Homo sapiens: one gene and its partner. The protein of the gene in region 1 interacts with the protein of each later gene in a biochemical or structural test. Each region holds a gene or a part of one and is shown in the gene's direction. Other genes may lie near its edges.

Region 1 (4,785 bases):
AGTCCACCAGAACGTTTGTAAAATTATTCTCTGAAGTTCACATATAACTGTCACAAATCATATGCACTTCAGAATTGCACCTCACTCTTTGGGACTTCACTCAGAGCTTTGCTGAGTCTTATTTATTGTAACACATAATGCTTACTCATAGATTTTGATAAATAGAAGATAGGTGAAGATGGTTAAAAGAATGAACATTGACAGCTAGAGAAATGACAGCTGGTAGCCTAATAGTAAGATCCAAGAGAGAACTAAAATGAACAAAACTGCATTTTTGCCTATTACAACTGAAGGTTTTTGAAATGTTGATACTTATTCATCAAGAAAACACCAAATTCTAGCTGGGCAGAGATCACACGTGCCTATATAGTCACAGCTACTTGAGGGGCTGAGGTGGGAGAATAGCTTGGGTCCAGGAGTTTGAGGCTGCAGTGAGCTATGTTATCACCACTGCACTCCAGCCTGGGCAATATAGGGATACCCCATCTCTTAAAACAAAACAAAAAACGAATTCTGTCCAATCATTGGCGTAAAACCAGAAAGATCACAAGATCTGACTTTGATGCCAAGTCAGAAAATTGTTTTTACTTTGGTCTGATTATAAGAAACTGTTTTAGGGTGATAAACTTAATTGCTTATATGCCTGTGGCTAGAAACACTAGAAGTTTCTTTACATTTCTCCTAGTATTTAACATCTTTTTTTTTTTTTTTTTTAATTTTTGAGATGGAGTCTTACTCTGTTGCCCAGGCTAGAATGCAGTGGTGCGATCTCTGCTCACTGCAACCTCCACCTACCAGGTTCAAGTGATCCTCCTGCCTCAGCCTCCCGAGTAGCTGGGATTACAGGCGTGCACCACCATGCATGGTGGTGTATTTTTGTATTTTTAGTAGAGACGGTGTTTCACCACATTGGCCAGGCTGGTCTTTAACTCCTGACCTCAGGTGGTCTGCCCGCCTTGGCCTCCCAAAGTGCTGGGATGACAGGCGTGAGCCCCCGTGCCTGGGCGTATTTAACATCTTCATATGGAGCCTGAATTTTCCTGTTTTTTTTTCTATTCCTGTCAGTAGGGTAGAATTTTGTTTGCTAGCATATCAGGCTCAATGGAATTCTGCTTTCTTGAAGTGTGTGCCTCACGAAATGGCTGGAAAGAAGTTAACGGGTCTAAAAATGAGGTTGAGGACGTGGGAGAGTGTACACATTGGTGGTTTTAGGTGTGCATCATTGTGTAGGTATGTCAGACTGAACAACCCCATTCTCTTGAGATACATGACAAAATGCCATTCTGTAGTCCACTGTTACTGTCTTTCAGGGTTTTACATATGTGGCTCCATCTGTACTTGAAAGTGTGAAAGAAAAGTTTTCCTTTGAACCAAAAATCCGATCACCTCGAAGATTTATTGGCAGCCCACGAACACCTGTCAGGTATTTCACACTCTTATTTTCACTTTTTTTTGTTTTTAAACAACCTACAAGAGTGTTTGCTTAAGAAGTTTATGCCAAGTTATATAAATGAAAGACTGTCATACTCTCTTTGGTTGACATAAGCACAGCATCTATATCTTACATTGCAAAGGACTAGTCTGACTAATCTATGATGTTATATGGTTTACCTTCCCTCCCAAAAGTAAGCAGCCATACTGGCAAATGTCCTCTTTATCCATTCACTCAGCATTTATTGTGCACCAAGAGCACCAGCACTACATACTGCATGTTATGTGTGTGTATCTATATAGTACTATAATACAGGAATTGTCCCTGTCCTGATGAAGCTTACAATTTAGTGGGAAAGTCACAATAGACAAAGGATATACAAAAATATAATTACAAGTAGTGCAAAGTGCTATAATTTAAAAGGGGAAAAAAAGAATGTACTGGTAGAGAGCAGAGGAAAAACAAGGGGGCTTCTACTCACAGTGATCAGAGAAAGGCCTCCCTGGTGTAGTAACATCTAGCAGTGAACGGAAAGAGCCAGCCCTACAAAAATAGGAGGTATAAGAATGTTGCAGGCAGAAGAACAGCAAATGCAAAAACCCTGAGGGAGGAGAAAAGTTGCCCTTTTCCTGGAAGTGAAAGGGAAATCAGTGTTCCTGGAGTGTGTGGTGAGTGAGGAGAAGGGCAGAGGTTTGGAAAAGTATTTTATTTTAAATGCAATAGAAAGCTGTTTTGAGCAGGGGAGAGTAAAATGATATATATAATACGCATTTAAATGTATATATATCTCATTGAGGGTTTTGGGGGTCAGGTGTAGAGGTAAAGAGACCAGTTAGGAAATTCTAGCAGTTAATCTAGGTGGGGGAGAGATGGTTCAATTTTTGCCTTTGTGCTAATCCACGTGAAAATAAAATTAAATGAAAATAAATGTCATGTTACCCCACTCCCTTTAAACGTAAAGGAAATATGTCTTGTTGAGATGACCCTTAAGCAAATGAATGATAGCTCTTCCTTGTCTTAAAGCCCAGTCAAATTTTCTCCTGGGGATTTCTGGGGAAGAGGTGCTTCGGCCAGCACAGCAAATCCTCAGACACCTGTGGAATACCCAATGGAAACAAGTGGCATAGAGCAGATGGATGTGACAATGAGTGGGGAAGCATCGGCACCACTTCCAATACGACAGCCGAACTCTGGGCCATACAAAAAACAAGCTTTTCCCATGATCTCCAAACGGCCAGAGCACCTGCGTATGAATCTATGACAGAGCAATGCTTTTAATGAATTTAAGGCAAAAAAGGTGGAGAGGGAGATGTGTGAGCATCCTGCAAGGTGAAACGACTCAAAATGACAGTTTCAGAGAGTCAATGTCATTACATAGAACACTTCAGACACAGGAAAAATAAACGTGGATTTTAAAAAATCAATCAATGGTGCAAAAAAAAACTTAAAGCAAAATAGTATTGCTGAACTCTTAGGCACATCAATTAATTGATTCCTCGCGACATCTTCTCAACCTTATCAAGGATTTTCATGTTGATGACTCGAAACTGACAGTATTAAGGGTAGGATGTTGCTTCTGAATCACTGTTGAGTTCTGATTGTGTTGAAGAAGGGTTATCCTTTCATTAGGCAAAGTACAAAATTGCCTATAATACTTGCAACTAAGGACAAATTAGCATGCAAGCTTGGTCAAACTTTTTCCAGCAAAATGGAAGCAAAGACAAAAGAAACTTACCAATTGATGTTTTACGTGCAAACAACCTGAATCTTTTTTTTATATAAATATATATTTTTCAAATAGATTTTTGATTCAGCTCATTATGAAAAACATCCCAAACTTTAAAATGCGAAATTATTGGTTGGTGTGAAGAAAGCCAGACAACTTCTGTTTCTTCTCTTGGTGAAATAATAAAATGCAAATGAATCATTGTTAACCACAGCTGTGGCTCGTTTGAGGGATTGGGGTGGACCTGGGGTTTATTTTCAGTAACCCAGCTGCAATACCTGTCTGTAATATGAGAAAAAAAAAATGAATCTATTTAATCATTTCTACTTGCAGTACTGCTATGTGCTAAGCTTAACTGGAAGCCTTGGAATGGGCATAAGTTGTATGTCCTACATTTCATCATTGTCCCGGGCCTGCATTGCACTGGAAAAAAAAATCGCCACCTGTTCTTACACCAGTATTTGGTTCAAGACACCAAATGTCTTCAGCCCATGGCTGAAGAACAACAGAAGAGAGTCAGGATAAAAAATACATACTGTGGTCGGCAAGGTGAGGGAGATAGGGATATCCAGGGGAAGAGGGTGTTGCTGTGGCCCACTCTCTGTCTAATCTCTTTACAGCAAATTGGTAAGATTTTCAGTTTTACTTCTTTCTACTGTTTCTGCTGTCTACCTTCCTTATATTTTTTTCCTCAACAGTTTTAAAAAGAAAAAAAGGTCTATTTTTTTTTCTCCTATACTTGGGCTACATTTTTTGATTGTAAAAATATTTGATGGCCTTTTGATGAATGTCTTCCACAGTAAAGAAAACTTAGTGGCTTAATTTAGGAAACATGTTAACAGGACACTATGTTTTTGAAATTGTAACAAAATCTACATAAATGATTTACAGGTTAAAAGAATAAAAATAAAGGTAACTTTACCTTTCTTAAATATTTCCTGCCTTAAAGAGAGCATTTCCATGACTTTAGCTGGTGAAAGGGTTTAATATCTGCAGAGCTTTATAAAAATATATTTCAGTGCATACTGGTATAATAGATGATCATGCAGTTGCAGTTGAGTTGTATCACCTTTTTTGTTTGTCTTTTATAATGTCTTCAGTCTGAGTGTGCAAAGTCAATTTGTAATATTTTGCAACCCTAGGATTTTTTTAAATAGATGCTGCTTGCTATGTTTTCAAACCTTTTTGAGCCATAGGATCCAAGCCATAAAATTCTTTATGCATGTTGAATTCAGTCAGAAAAGAGCAAGGCTTTGCTTTTTGAAATTGCAACTCAAATGAGATGGGATGAAATCCTATGACAGTAAGCAAAAACAGAACCATGAAAAATGATTGGACATACACCTTTTCAATTGTGGCAATAATTGAAAGAATCGATAAAAGTTCATCTTTGGACAGAAAGCCTTTAAAAAAAAAATCACTCCCTCTTCCCCCTCCTCCCTTATTGCAGCAGCCTACTGAGAACTTTGACTGTTGCTGGTAAATTAGAAGCTACAATAATAATTAAGGGCAGAAATTATACTTAAAAAGTGCAGATCCTTGTTCTTTGACAATTTGTGATGTCTGAAAAAACAGAACCCGAAAAGCTATGGTGATATGTACAGGCATTATTTCAGACTGTAAATGG
Region 2 (4,404 bases), on another chromosome or scaffold:
GTTCTAACTGTCATTTTGGTAGCCTCAGTGCCCAGCTTGGCCCAGCAGGTTGGTTGAAAAGTCTTGATCCACAGGCTTTCCTACTGGGATAGACTGAAGGAAGATGAGTGAGTGTGTGAGTGAGAGAAGAAATTCATGAGTGGCAAGGGGCAGGAGGGGAGGGGAAGGCAAAGCCTGCAGGCTCTCCTGTGATGCTCCTTTACCCCCAGCCATGTGTCCTTGACCGGGGAGAGCGACGGTGGCTACATGGACATGAGCAAGGACGAGTCGGTGGACTATGTGCCCATGCTGGACATGAAAGGAGACGTCAAATATGCAGACATCGAGTCCTCCAACTACATGGCCCCTTACGATAACTACGTTCCCTCTGGTGGGTGGACATAGTGACATAGTACCCCACATCCAAACAGGCTGATGCTCTTCACATGCCCAGCCTTGCCAAAAACCCTGAGAAGAAGGGAGCCTCGTGCCCATTTCATAGATGTAGAAATTGAGGCTAGCCACCTGGCCAAAACTGATCTGTAGTGGACCCCTAAACGGAAGCCCTGTTTATGGATCCGGAAACATGCGTAGAACCCTCAGGGAGGGAGAGAGCAGGGATATGGGAGGACCTGGCCTTTTGTCGTGGTAGGGAAAGTGATCTACTCAGCTTCAGCCCCAGGCTGGTCTAGTGTCCCTGAGAGGCAGGCAGGCAGGCCAGGCTGGGCAAAAGTGGCCCAAGGGCTAATGCCAAAAGGCCAATGAGGGCACTGATAAAGCAGGAGAACTTTGAGTTTGATATTAAGAAATCATTCTCCTTTTAGGGGAGACCTAGACGATCAGTAGCCACCTGTCTTGGACATTCAGTCTCCCAGGAGCCAAAGGGCAGGGGTCCTGTGGGCCAGAAGGAGATATAAGATAGCAGGTGACCCTCTGCTTCTCCTCTAGCCCCTGAGAGGACCTGCCGAGCAACTTTGATCAACGAGTCTCCAGTGCTAAGCTACATGGACCTCGTGGGCTTCAGCTACCAGGTGGCCAATGGCATGGAGTTTCTGGCCTCCAAGAACGTACGTGTGGTGTTGGTGGGGCAGAGTGGGGGCTGTGGGGAGGTGGGTCACCCAGCCAGCCAGCATCCTCCAAGAGCACACCAGGGTGGCCTCTCGCACATGGGCAGTGTTGTATTTTCCCAAAGCCCTTGACATGAAGGGTCTTTCCCCACAATTGTCCCCAAGGCCTCAGCTCCCCTCTCCCCAAACCCAGTGCGTCCACAGAGACCTGGCGGCTAGGAACGTGCTCATCTGTGAAGGCAAGCTGGTCAAGATCTGTGACTTTGGCCTGGCTCGAGACATCATGCGGGACTCGAATTACATCTCCAAAGGCAGCGTGAGTACCTTCCCTGGCCCCTGCAGGGCAGTCACAGTGCCTGTGACCGCAGGAACAGATTCCCTCCTGACCAGTGTGGCTGCAGCTCATAGGAAATCTGTGTGGGGCTCCTTGTGGCCTGCCCTGACAGCAGTGATGGGCTGTGCCTGCCCAGCTATGTGTGCAGGGACAGGATGGGGAGCCGCCCAGGAGTGCATGGAGCAAGTATAGCGGCGGGGAGGGCTGGCTATAATGGGTCCAGGGTGGGGGAAGGGGGAACAGGCCGAATGTGTTGTTCCAGTGGTGGTGGGCAGAGGAAGAAGCCCAGGTGACAGGGCAAGAAAGATGAGCAGGTCACATGCAGTAGCAGGGATTGGTCTGGTTAAAACGTGATCATCCTGCCTGTCTCTCATCTCCCCACTTTTCCGCAAACCCCAGATGGAGGGACGCTAGGCCCAGAGATCAAAGGCAGCCAGGATAAGAGCTTGGGGGGTGCCTTGACAAGTCCCTGGCTCCCACACTTCACTACTCAGACCCTGGGGCTTTTCCCCAGGGACAGGGGCTGCCTTGTCCCCAGCTAGTGAGAAAGGAAACAGCCTCTGGTCCTCTGACCAGCCCTGGGATGGACATGGGAACTGTGCTGCGCAGAGACCAGGGCCCTCACAGGGAATGGGACGGAGAAGTGGTTGTGGGTGGGAGCTGCCAGATACCCTCCTCCCATCCCAGGTGCAGAGTGGGGCTGAGGTCCTTCCTTGCACTCAGCACCTGTCCTGACCTCCCTACAGACCTTTTTGCCTTTAAAGTGGATGGCTCCGGAGAGCATCTTCAACAGCCTCTACACCACCCTGAGCGACGTGTGGTCCTTCGGGATCCTGCTCTGGGAGATCTTCACCTTGGGTATGCTTGCTTCCTCCTCCAGCCCTCAGCATCCTGGCCTGGTGTCTACCTCGACCACTCATGCCTCTGGCCTGGTGGGGCTATGGGACGAGCCCTGATACAGGGATCCTGGTTCAGGTCCCAGCTCTGCTACCTTCTCCCTGCTGTGTGATGTTAGCAAATTCTTTGCCCTCTCTGGGTCTCTTTATCTCCCTGTCTGAGCATTGACAGGTTTGAACAGTGACATCAGAAAGCCTGCTTGGCTCTCACATTCTGGCTGTCTATCCTGGGGAGGGTTGTGGTCTCTGTTCAGAGCCCATGAAGGAGCCCACAGTTCCAAATGCCAGGGGCACTGCCCCCTTACCCATACCAGGGCCAGCATGGCTCTCCTTGTCCTGTAGAAGAGGGTGCCCTGCCACTTTTCCACCCCTGAGCCTGTGTATCTCTTGTCTCTGCTCCCCAACAGGTGGCACCCCTTACCCAGAGCTGCCCATGAACGAGCAGTTCTACAATGCCATCAAACGGGGTTACCGCATGGCCCAGCCTGCCCATGCCTCCGACGAGATGTGAGTGGAGTCTCATGCATTTGGGAGGATTTTGTGCTGCAAACAATAGATATCCAACTCTACTGGCTTAAACCAAAGATGAGAGATTTGTTAGCTCAGAGATCTAGAAAGCCTTGGTGTAACTGGATCCAGCCATTCAAAGGATGGCATCAGGAACCTCTTGTTCTAGCCCTGAGCTCTGCTTTGCTCTGTGTGGCCTCATTTTCAGGCCAGCATTGCCCAAATGGCTACCAGCAGTGCCAGTCTCATGTCCTACTGCTTGCTCCATAGTGCCAGCAAAAGTCCCAGAGCTGACCTTCAAGGGCTCAGGTGGGGTCACATGCCATCAAGAACCAACCGTGGAAGCTGCAGGGCTGAAAACTGTTGGCGAAGGTTGGCTCCTGTGCTCACCCAGGCGTAGTCAACCTGTGGAACCATGTGGAATGGGGGCTCTGCGAGGGCCTCCCAAGGGAATATCCAGAGACAGGACCTCTGGATACACCCAGCCACCACTTCCCTCCAGCTCCTTTCCATGGCTCACCTTGTTCTGAGAGGCAGCAGCCTCCTGCTCCCCCAGCCCTGCCTTGTCCCCTGAACCCTGGGCCAGAGGCCCTGACCCTTCTCCCTATCCCCAGCTATGAGATCATGCAGAAGTGCTGGGAAGAGAAGTTTGAGATTCGGCCCCCCTTCTCCCAGCTGGTGCTGCTTCTCGAGAGACTGTTGGGCGAAGGTTACAAAAAGGTATGTTGAGGCAGGGTAGGGGTGGAGCACGGAGAGCTCTGGTGCAGAAGTCAGACACCGAGTACAAGGCTCTGCGTGATGGGCTGGCATTTAGGGGACCACCCTTTGTCCTCTCTGGGCCTCAGTTTCCCTGCTGGTTCTAGGAGGGGATGGGCTGGCGCTGTGAGTTTATTTTAGCAGCAGAGAGCTTTATGAAATGGAATCCTACATGGAAGCTGATCGATTAGATGCAGGGAGGGGGCCTAGAGCACTGTCTGTCCTGCTGCCTCCCTCAGGCCTTTACCTCCATACCGAACCGTGGGGCTCCTTCAGAAGTGTGAATAACCCCAGGTTACATGACCATGAACCGCCTGACCACTTGGATCCTGTCACAGGATTGTCCAAGGCCCAAAGAGCCAGTAGGGCCCTGAAACCCTGCCCCGTCCAACAACACGGGTCCAAGTGAGGAGGAAATACACATGGCCTTTGACACAGAGGCAGCTCCTTCTTTGGGTCCATTTCTCACCCCCACTGCCCCCCGGGGATGGTCCCAGGGACCTGGGAGATGGAGTAAGGTCATCACCACTTCACAGCAAAGGAAACTGAGGCCCTGAAGAAGGACGCTGAGGCAGCATGAGAGCCTGTGCCTGTCTGCTCTGAAGTGGGGGAAGAGTTAGAGTCCTGGGTGCTGGTCTGATAACTGCCCCTCCCTGGGTGGTCCTGAGCTCACCATGCCTTGTAAGATTCTATGTGAGGTAGGAGGGCAGCTCAACCATGTGGCTTGGGCAAATCCCTTTCCCCTCTGAGCAGCGGGGGTCTTATTTATACAAAGGGGGATGGGCTCGGTTAGAAGATCCCTGAAGGCATTTCTGGCCTGACCATCCCTGTTTCTTTGGTTCTCCCTGCCCCGGGAGCAGAAGTA

Evidence for each region.
Region 2: of the proteins of RPS6KB1 (region 1) and PDGFRB, one has a biochemical effect on the other in vitro, tested with the Homo sapiens proteins (one study listed by BioGRID).

The regions. Positions count from the first base shown.
Region 1 is NC_000017.11:59,944,096-59,948,880, forward strand, and holds part of RPS6KB1 (ribosomal protein S6 kinase beta-1), read left to right. Parts: intron 1-1,310; coding exon 1,311-1,423; intron 1,424-2,455; coding exon 2,456-2,693; 3' UTR 2,694-3,491; coding exon of another isoform or gene 3,492-3,507; 3' UTR 3,508-4,785. UniProt on the Homo sapiens protein: Serine/threonine-protein kinase that acts downstream of mTOR signaling in response to growth factors and nutrients to promote cell proliferation, cell growth and cell cycle progression.
Region 2 is NC_000005.10:150,117,846-150,122,249, reverse strand, and holds part of PDGFRB (platelet-derived growth factor receptor beta isoform 1 precursor), read left to right. Parts: intron 1-209; coding exon 210-370; intron 371-927; coding exon 928-1,046; intron 1,047-1,239; coding exon 1,240-1,362; intron 1,363-2,126; coding exon 2,127-2,238; intron 2,239-2,683; coding exon 2,684-2,783; intron 2,784-3,397; coding exon 3,398-3,503; intron 3,504-4,399; coding exon 4,400-4,404. UniProt on the Homo sapiens protein: Tyrosine-protein kinase that acts as a cell-surface receptor for homodimeric PDGFB and PDGFD and for heterodimers formed by PDGFA and PDGFB, and plays an essential role in the regulation of embryonic development, cell proliferation, survival, differentiation, chemotaxis and migration.